Homo sapiens: one gene and its partner. The protein of the gene in region 2 purifies or fractionates together with the protein of the main gene of each other region. This does not show direct contact. Each region holds a gene or a part of one and is shown on either strand. Other genes may lie near its edges. The genes, in order: GNG2 and CALCR.

Region 1 (3,829 bases), on a different chromosome or scaffold from region 2:
TGGGACATACATGCCCACATGATGACATCAGACTTGCCCAGTGACATAAGCTTGCTCTGGCCAGAGAGATGTGAGCAGAATTTATGTGGATCAATTATGGGCAGAAACTTTAGGAGCCAATGCACAGTTTGCCATGTCCCTTCCTCTATACCACTTCGTCCGACTGAAATAATTTATGAGGAACCCTCTTAATTGATGCAGAGGTTTTAACAAATGGCATAGTGGCAATATCCTTGATTTGTTTCTTGTCCCAGGGCTGAGTTGATTAAAGCTTTGTCACTCCTGCCTCAGCCTCCTGAGTAGCTGGGACTACAGGTGCATGCCACCATGCCTAGCTGGTTTTTCAAAAATGTTCTTGCTATTTTGCCCATGCTGGTCTTGAACGCCTGACCTCAAGCCATCCTCCCGCCTCACCTTCCGGAGTCCTGGGATTACAGGTGTAAGTCACTGTGCCTGGCCTTTTTTACTTAAGGCTACTTCAACTTTATGATTTACTGGTTGGGTAGAGAAATCAGTTTCCTCTTCTCATCCCATAAACCGTTGAATTTTTGGGGTCTCTGTTCCCTTTGCCACAGAACAGATAGAAGCAACATTCTGGACAGAGGCTGCTCCATCTGCCAGCATCCCTGATGAAGGTGACATGGTGTGGAGTGGCAGCTGATTTATGATTGACATATGGTAGGAGTGAGAAGTGTGACTGTGCTATTGCAAACCCCTAAGAATGAAGGGTAGGGCACCTTCTGTTACTACCACAACATCTAGCCAACCCTAATTGACACAAAGAGGTACAGGTATTGGTTTGTGTATTTGTTTCCTCTGGCTGTCTTGAACAAGTCCTCACAAACTGGGTAACTTAAAACAACAGAAATTTATTCTGTTAGAGACTAGCAGTTTGAAATCAAGGCATCAGCTTGGTTGGTCCCTTCTGGAGGGTCTGAGCGAGAATCTGTTCCATGCTTCTCTCCTAGTGCCTGGTGGTTGCTGGCAATCTTTGGTATCCCTTGGCTTATAGACATATCACTCCAATCTCTGTCTCTATTTTCACATGGAATTCTCTCCTGAGTGTCTGTGTCTTTATGTGGCATTCTCCTCTCTGTGTGACCAAATTTCCCATCTCACCAGTTAGAGTTACCCTAATCCAGTATGATTCCTCTTAATTTGATTACATCTACAAATACCCTATTTCCAAGTAAGGCCACATTCTAAGATTCCAGGTGGGCATAAATTTTAGGGGACACTAGTCAACCCAATACATGATATGTATGTAAAAATCAGTCTCACTTTTTAATAGACATTACAGTACTTACAAAAATATTTTTATTTTATCCTTATTTTGTTCCAGACATTGAGTTAAATTTCCTCTTTTGATCTTCACAGTAATCCTGAGGTAAGAATTATTATCCTCTTTTTATAGATGAAAAATTGAGGCTCAGCAGATTATATAAGTTGTTCAATATCATAGAGCAAAGCACACAGCAGAAAAAGAACTTGAACTCGAATGTGTTGCCATTAAGCCACAGCCATCTGCATATAAACTACTCAAATGTGGGCTTTGTTCCAAAGGTTGAAATTGAAATTCTTTATGAAATGCTTCTATGACAAAATGAAAGGAAACAGCCTGTTTATGTCTTAGCTCTCCCACATGAAAACAAAGGACAGACTTTCAGACTGAATTGAGATCACTTTTTTTCTTCATTCTTTCTTCTTGTTTGAGCGATAGTCATTGTTACACCAAACAGGAGCTTAGCTGTTAGGCAGTGGAGACAGTAAATCAGTGATATCTAAAACTCATTTGTTACGAGGAGAAGCAGCACCGTTCATCCCTACCCGTTTGCAACACTCACATACAACTATGTAGCATGAATATTCAAAATCTTTTTATGATACAGGAAGTACTATACTAGGAAAATTTAATAACTTAGAGCTGCTCATATCTTTATATTTGAACATTTGATTCTGAATGGTTTCCTTCTTAAAATATATTATGTGTTTTATCTTGTTTCCTCAACAAGACTGCAATCTCCTGTGGGCAATGCTCCAACAGTGTCAGAATCCCAGCAGTAATTAGAATAATTGCTAATATTTATCAGCCCTTGCTATGTGTCAGAACTGTGCTAACCACTTTACATACGGTATCTTATTTAATCCTTACAACAACATTATGGGTCACAAGCTATTATCATTCTCATCTTAAATATGTGAAGTGGAGGCTTCATTAAGTGTTTGCCCCAGGTCCCACAGCTCCTGAGCTACTGAGTTGTGAGTCTCAATGTCCCTGACTTAATCTTCATGAACATTCCTCCTTTCTAACCTGTGGCTGTCTTCCTTGTCCTGTGCCTTATAATGAGTCACAGCAATCGTGTGCCTAGCAGATCTTTCTGCTTTCTGACAATCCCTGCTAACATTTTGCACACAGCTTCTTCTACATTCGTATGCCTACTTCTTCCATGAAGATTTCCCCAATAACTCCAGAAAATCTCTCCCTTTTCTGTCCTGTTGATTCTTCCTCCAAAGATATCTCAAATTTGGCTCCCTTCCTGTTATATCTATTGCAGCTACCCCAGTTCATACTGCAGTCTTCTCTCTTTGTGATTACTAAAATAACTTTGTAAATAAAGGCAATTAATTTGGATTACCCCAGGGTTCCACAGATCGAATTCGGGGGGTGGTATGTGAACTTCAAATAATACAAAAAATTTACATCTTTATTTTTCACTAACCTCAAATGGAAATTTAACATTTCCTCTCATTATAAATATAGACAACACACTGCAGTAGCCCTAGCAGTACATGTGACTTGGCCACTGATAGATACCAGATACTTTCAATCACATTATATTCATTGCAGACACCTCAACACTGCATTTCTGTTCATCCACCTTATGATTGTAGACCTATTAGATCTTACATAATCAGTTAACAAAGGAGTACCTATGTATAACTACATCACATATATTTTTAAAAATTGATATTTTAAATAATATTATTTAAAATGTTTTACAAAAATATTCTAATGACCCTCATGTCAATATAATTAGTTTCTTTTGTAATTTAAAAACATGATTCTAAGAAGGAGACCATAGGCTTGAGCAGACAGACAAATGAGTCAAGAGCACAAAAATGTTTAATTATCTCAGTTTTAAATGATTTCCTGTGTTCATAACTATGCAGGAGTAGTATTCTCCATACTGTAGCTAGAAAGATATTTTTAAAATACAAGTGGATTCCTATCATTCTCCTATTTAAAACCTTCAATAACTTCTCATTGTAATTTGTAGAAAACCAAAACTTTGTAAAACAGCCTGTGGGTATTGCATGTTTTGGGCCTCCCCCTCTCTCCAATTTCATGTTGTAGCATTCTTCCCTCTCAAATATCTCCTTTACTTTTTGAAAGCTCCAAGTTCTTTTTTGCCTCAGAGTGTCACATATTCAGTATCCTAGAATATTGTTCTCTTCATCTCCTCAATGGGTTGGCTTATCATCTTCCTTCAGAAGTCAGCAGAAATACCACCTCCTTGCAGAACCTTCACTGATCGCCTCATCCACAGTGACTTTCCTGATTATTTTCTCTCAGAGTACTTTCTCACATTCTTCTCTTTCACAGAAATTATAAATTGCTTTCACAGTTTATAATTACGGACATCGTTTGTTTATTTGCCATTTAATATTTGCCTTTCCCTTTAGGCTCTGGGCTCCACGAAGGCAGGAACCACACCTGTGTTATTTACTACCGTATAATCAGTGCCTGACACATATTCAACACTCATAGTAATTGCTGAAGGAGTTCTCAAACATAATCTTCTTCGACAGATATTTCATGCAACGAATA
Region 2 (3,829 bases):
TAATACTTGATGAAACATACAATTTCATCTCCTTTTGCTTAAGACCTGTATACTGTGTAAAGTACAAATACGTACCCTTTTGAAAGAGGAGAAAGAGGAAAATAGCATCATTCCCCTTGGCACACTAACTACCATATACCCGGTGCCAATGATAATCTAGTACTTTTACAAAAAATATGTTTTAAGCTAAGAGTAGCCTTGTGAGTTACAAGCTATTATCATTATTTTATGTATGAGGAAATTGAGGACCCATTAGATTAATGAACTCGCTCAAAGCCACGAACCAAGTAAATTAAAAATATATTTGAACCCAGGTCTTTTTAAGTTCAATGATGGATTACATTATATATTTATTTACATATTTGTATTTTTTACAACTTAACAGCAGCATTTATTTAGAGATAATATAAGTTAAGAGTACAAATTCTGGCACAGCTCTGCTTGAGTTTGACTTCTGATTCCATAACTTTCTATCTGTGTGATTTGGGCACATAATGTAACTTCTCGGTGCCTTAATTTTCTTTGTAGAATAAGAATTAAATGAGTTAATATTTGTAAAGCATTTGGGTAGGTGTCTGGTACATGGTAAGTTCTATGTGTTATATTTTTTTAAATGTCATTCATTCAAAAAAATTTTTATTGTTATATGCCAAGCATTGCACTAAGCCTGAAGATACATAGACAAATAAGTCATATCCCTATCCTCAAGGATGTCGTGTCTAGTAGAGAATGACAAGAACATAAGTAATCATCCCAATCAGGTATAGATCTTTTACTTAATTAAAAGCATCATTTCTTGACAACTGTGTGCTTTTCCATGTGAATGTGATCTTCCAGAGCTTCATATAATGAGTGTTATAAAACCAAGTGATAAGATTTTGTGTTTTCATAATGATACTAACTTGTTTTCAATTCTAGTATCAAAACACAGAAAATCATATTAACATATGTTTCTGGCTTCCCTTATACATTTAGAAAACCAGCAATATAGAGAGGTTTGAGATCTTTAAAATTTTATATTAAAAGTGAATCATGAAGATAGAACATTGGAGAATAATCAGTAGAAAAAATGTTATCAGTATCTGTTCCTCAATACTTCTAACAGTAATTTTCTTGAATTGGCTTTTCAAAAACAGTTTTGTCTGATTAGAATGTAGTTTTGGTTTTGTTTTTAAGAAAAAAAATGTTTCAGGGAAGAAAGAGTGGATCACAGGATACAGAAAAATGTCCCTAATACAAGTTGGCAAGGCAACATATACCTCATTGAAGCTGGCAGCACTTCCTAGTCTATGCCTGCAGCTCTGCACAGCTGCCTGGTACCTCCAGGGTACCAGTGGATACCTGAGGTATAAGATTCTGTCTTTGTTAAAAATTAAAGTCCCTGTTTATTTTTTAAAAATAGCATATAAATTGGTATTCTTTGTACCAGAATAACACAGATAATCTAAACTCAAGGAGTTATTTCTCAAAGAAGTAAAGTACCTGGTTCAGTGAAATATTTAACTATTCCATTTCACTAAAATTTATGTTTAACTATTTCAGTAAAATTTATGTCTTTCCTCTCTCTTATCAAGTCTCAGACTACCTCCAGTTTTTCCCATGGATGCTACATTTTTCTTCCTCTAAGTATCGCTGCCACACCTCTAGTTTAAGTTTTTATTATCATTAATAAAATATTTATTCTCCTAATATTCAGTCACATTAAGTTTCTATGTGCTAACTTCAGTGTTATAGAACATGGTTAGACTTGTTTTCTAATCTTTAATTTCTCCCCCTCTGTTCATAATTATTCAGTAATGGTCCAAGGACTGCAAGACTTAGAACCCCTCTTCAGCCTGGTATTTAAGATGTTTCATGGTATAATCCTAGTTTAGCTTTCCTATCCAAGTCAGGTAGAAAACCTCAACAGCTCCTTAATTTTAGTTCTGAAGCTGTAGTTACACCAGAAAAATTGACTCCTGATTTGGAGTCCATTCTTCACTTTTAACCCTGTGCCCTTGCATGTCAACCTCAGTCTATATTCTTCTGCCTCAAAATTGAAGTGTGTGTGTGTGTGTGTGTGTGTGTGTGTGTGTCCCTTTACATCAATGGTTCCATTGTAGAGCTGCTTTTCTTTGGTTTTCATGTCTCGCTGCAACCCTAGTCTCACTCCCTGCCCTTTATTTGTCCGGTGGTTCAGAATTCAACATTTCAAATCTTACCTTCCTTCATCCTTAAAATGTATTAATCATTCTCCCATAACACATCTAACAAATTTCCATCCTATAGCTTTGCTCATATTTTAAAACTGAATAAATATGTACTAAGTGCCTATTATGTCCTAGTCAGGGGATATTGTGACAGATTACAGATCCTGATTTCATGGGGAATGGAAAAGACAGACAAACCAACAAACATTATACAGCCCTGTGGTATGTATTCCAATAGAGAAATGCCATGAGGGTGCCTAGCCGGACAACCAGCCCGGACATCAGGGAAATTTTCTAGGGAGGTTACCCTAAAGGGCATATGATTCAGCATTGAAATGACAGAACAGAATGAGCTAGATAAAGAGGGGAAGAAATGAAGTGTTACAGGCAGGACACCAGATTGTGGCTTGAAACAACATGGTGACTTGGGGAAACCACAGGTATTTTTGTTGCCCCAGCAGGGTTAAAGGACACAGATTATACACAAAGAAGCTTGCATGCCTACCATACTAAAGGGTTTGCATTTTATCAGGAAGATAGTGGGGGGTCCTTGAAGGAGTTAATATAGGTTACTGAAATAATCAGATTTGCCATTTTGGTAGATCTCTCTGGTGGAAAATAAGAGGCATATTAGATTGAAAAAAAGGATGGATACAGATTAACTGGACACACGCAGCCTTACTGCAGTGACAGAGGGAAGAATCAATTAGGGCCTCCTTGTTGGAGACAGAAAAGAAAAAAAAACGAAATTATTTTAAAGGTAGATTTTGTAGGATTTGGTGAACGATAGAAATTAGAGGTGAGATGAAAGAGAAAAATTGTATGATGAATTCCAGGCCTCTTTCATGGATAATAAGAGAGATGTGATGTCATTCACCAAGTCGGGACAAGGAGTATTTTGGACAGGCAAGATAAATAGTTGAATTTGGAGGAAAAAAAAATAATGTCTTTGGCTCATCCATGTGATGATGTTAAGTAGAAGTGCATATAGAAATTAGTGCCTCAAGAGAGAATTTGGTACTAGAAATATAAATTTAAGAGACATAGTGAATCTATTTCAGCTGACAGCATAGGAATAAAGCATATTATCTCTGGAGAAGTAAAAACAGGGAATAAAGAAAGAAAACATAGAGGAAAAAATTAAAGGTAGAAAATTAAAAGAAAAGTAAAACATCTTAGAATCCTGGAAAGCACCAATATTTAAAGGGAAATGGAAAACAATCCTGCAAAAAAAAGACAGAGATGAAAGACTACAGGAGAGAGACAGAGAGAGAGAGAGAGAGAGAGAGAGAGAGAGAGAGAGAGAGAGAGAAAGTAATTTTATGGAAACCAGGGAGGAGAAAGCGAGCACTCATGCGGGATGTTACCAGTAGATCAAGTGGGATAAGGATTGAGAGCTCGCAATTGCATTTAATTGAGAGCAATTTTAGTCGTGAGTTGGGTGTGGGTTGAGAAATAAATGTGAAATGAGGAAATGGAGACACTGATTGTACACAATAATTTCAATCAGTTTGAGACGCCTGCCTTACTTTATTTTCCCTTTTTGAAAGGTGCAGTCTCCTAAAGCTTAACTTACATGCTGCTTCCTTCTTTTTAGCCTTTCCTGGACAGCGTTTAATCCCCCCAACAAAGATGTCATA

The links.
Region 1: the proteins of CALCR (region 2) and GNG2 fractionate together in Homo sapiens (co-fractionation; one study listed by IntAct). This does not show direct contact.

What each region holds. Positions count from the first base shown.
Region 1 is NC_000014.9:51,961,360-51,965,188, reverse strand, and holds part of GNG2 (guanine nucleotide-binding protein G(I)/G(S)/G(O) subunit gamma-2 precursor), read right to left. Parts: intron 1-3,829. UniProt on the Homo sapiens protein: Guanine nucleotide-binding proteins (G proteins) are involved as a modulator or transducer in various transmembrane signaling systems.
Region 2 is NC_000007.14:93,568,182-93,572,010, reverse strand, and holds part of CALCR (calcitonin receptor isoform 2 precursor), read left to right. Parts: intron 1-3,829. UniProt on the Homo sapiens protein: G protein-coupled receptor activated by ligand peptides amylin (IAPP), calcitonin (CT/CALCA) and calcitonin gene-related peptide type 1 (CGRP1/CALCA).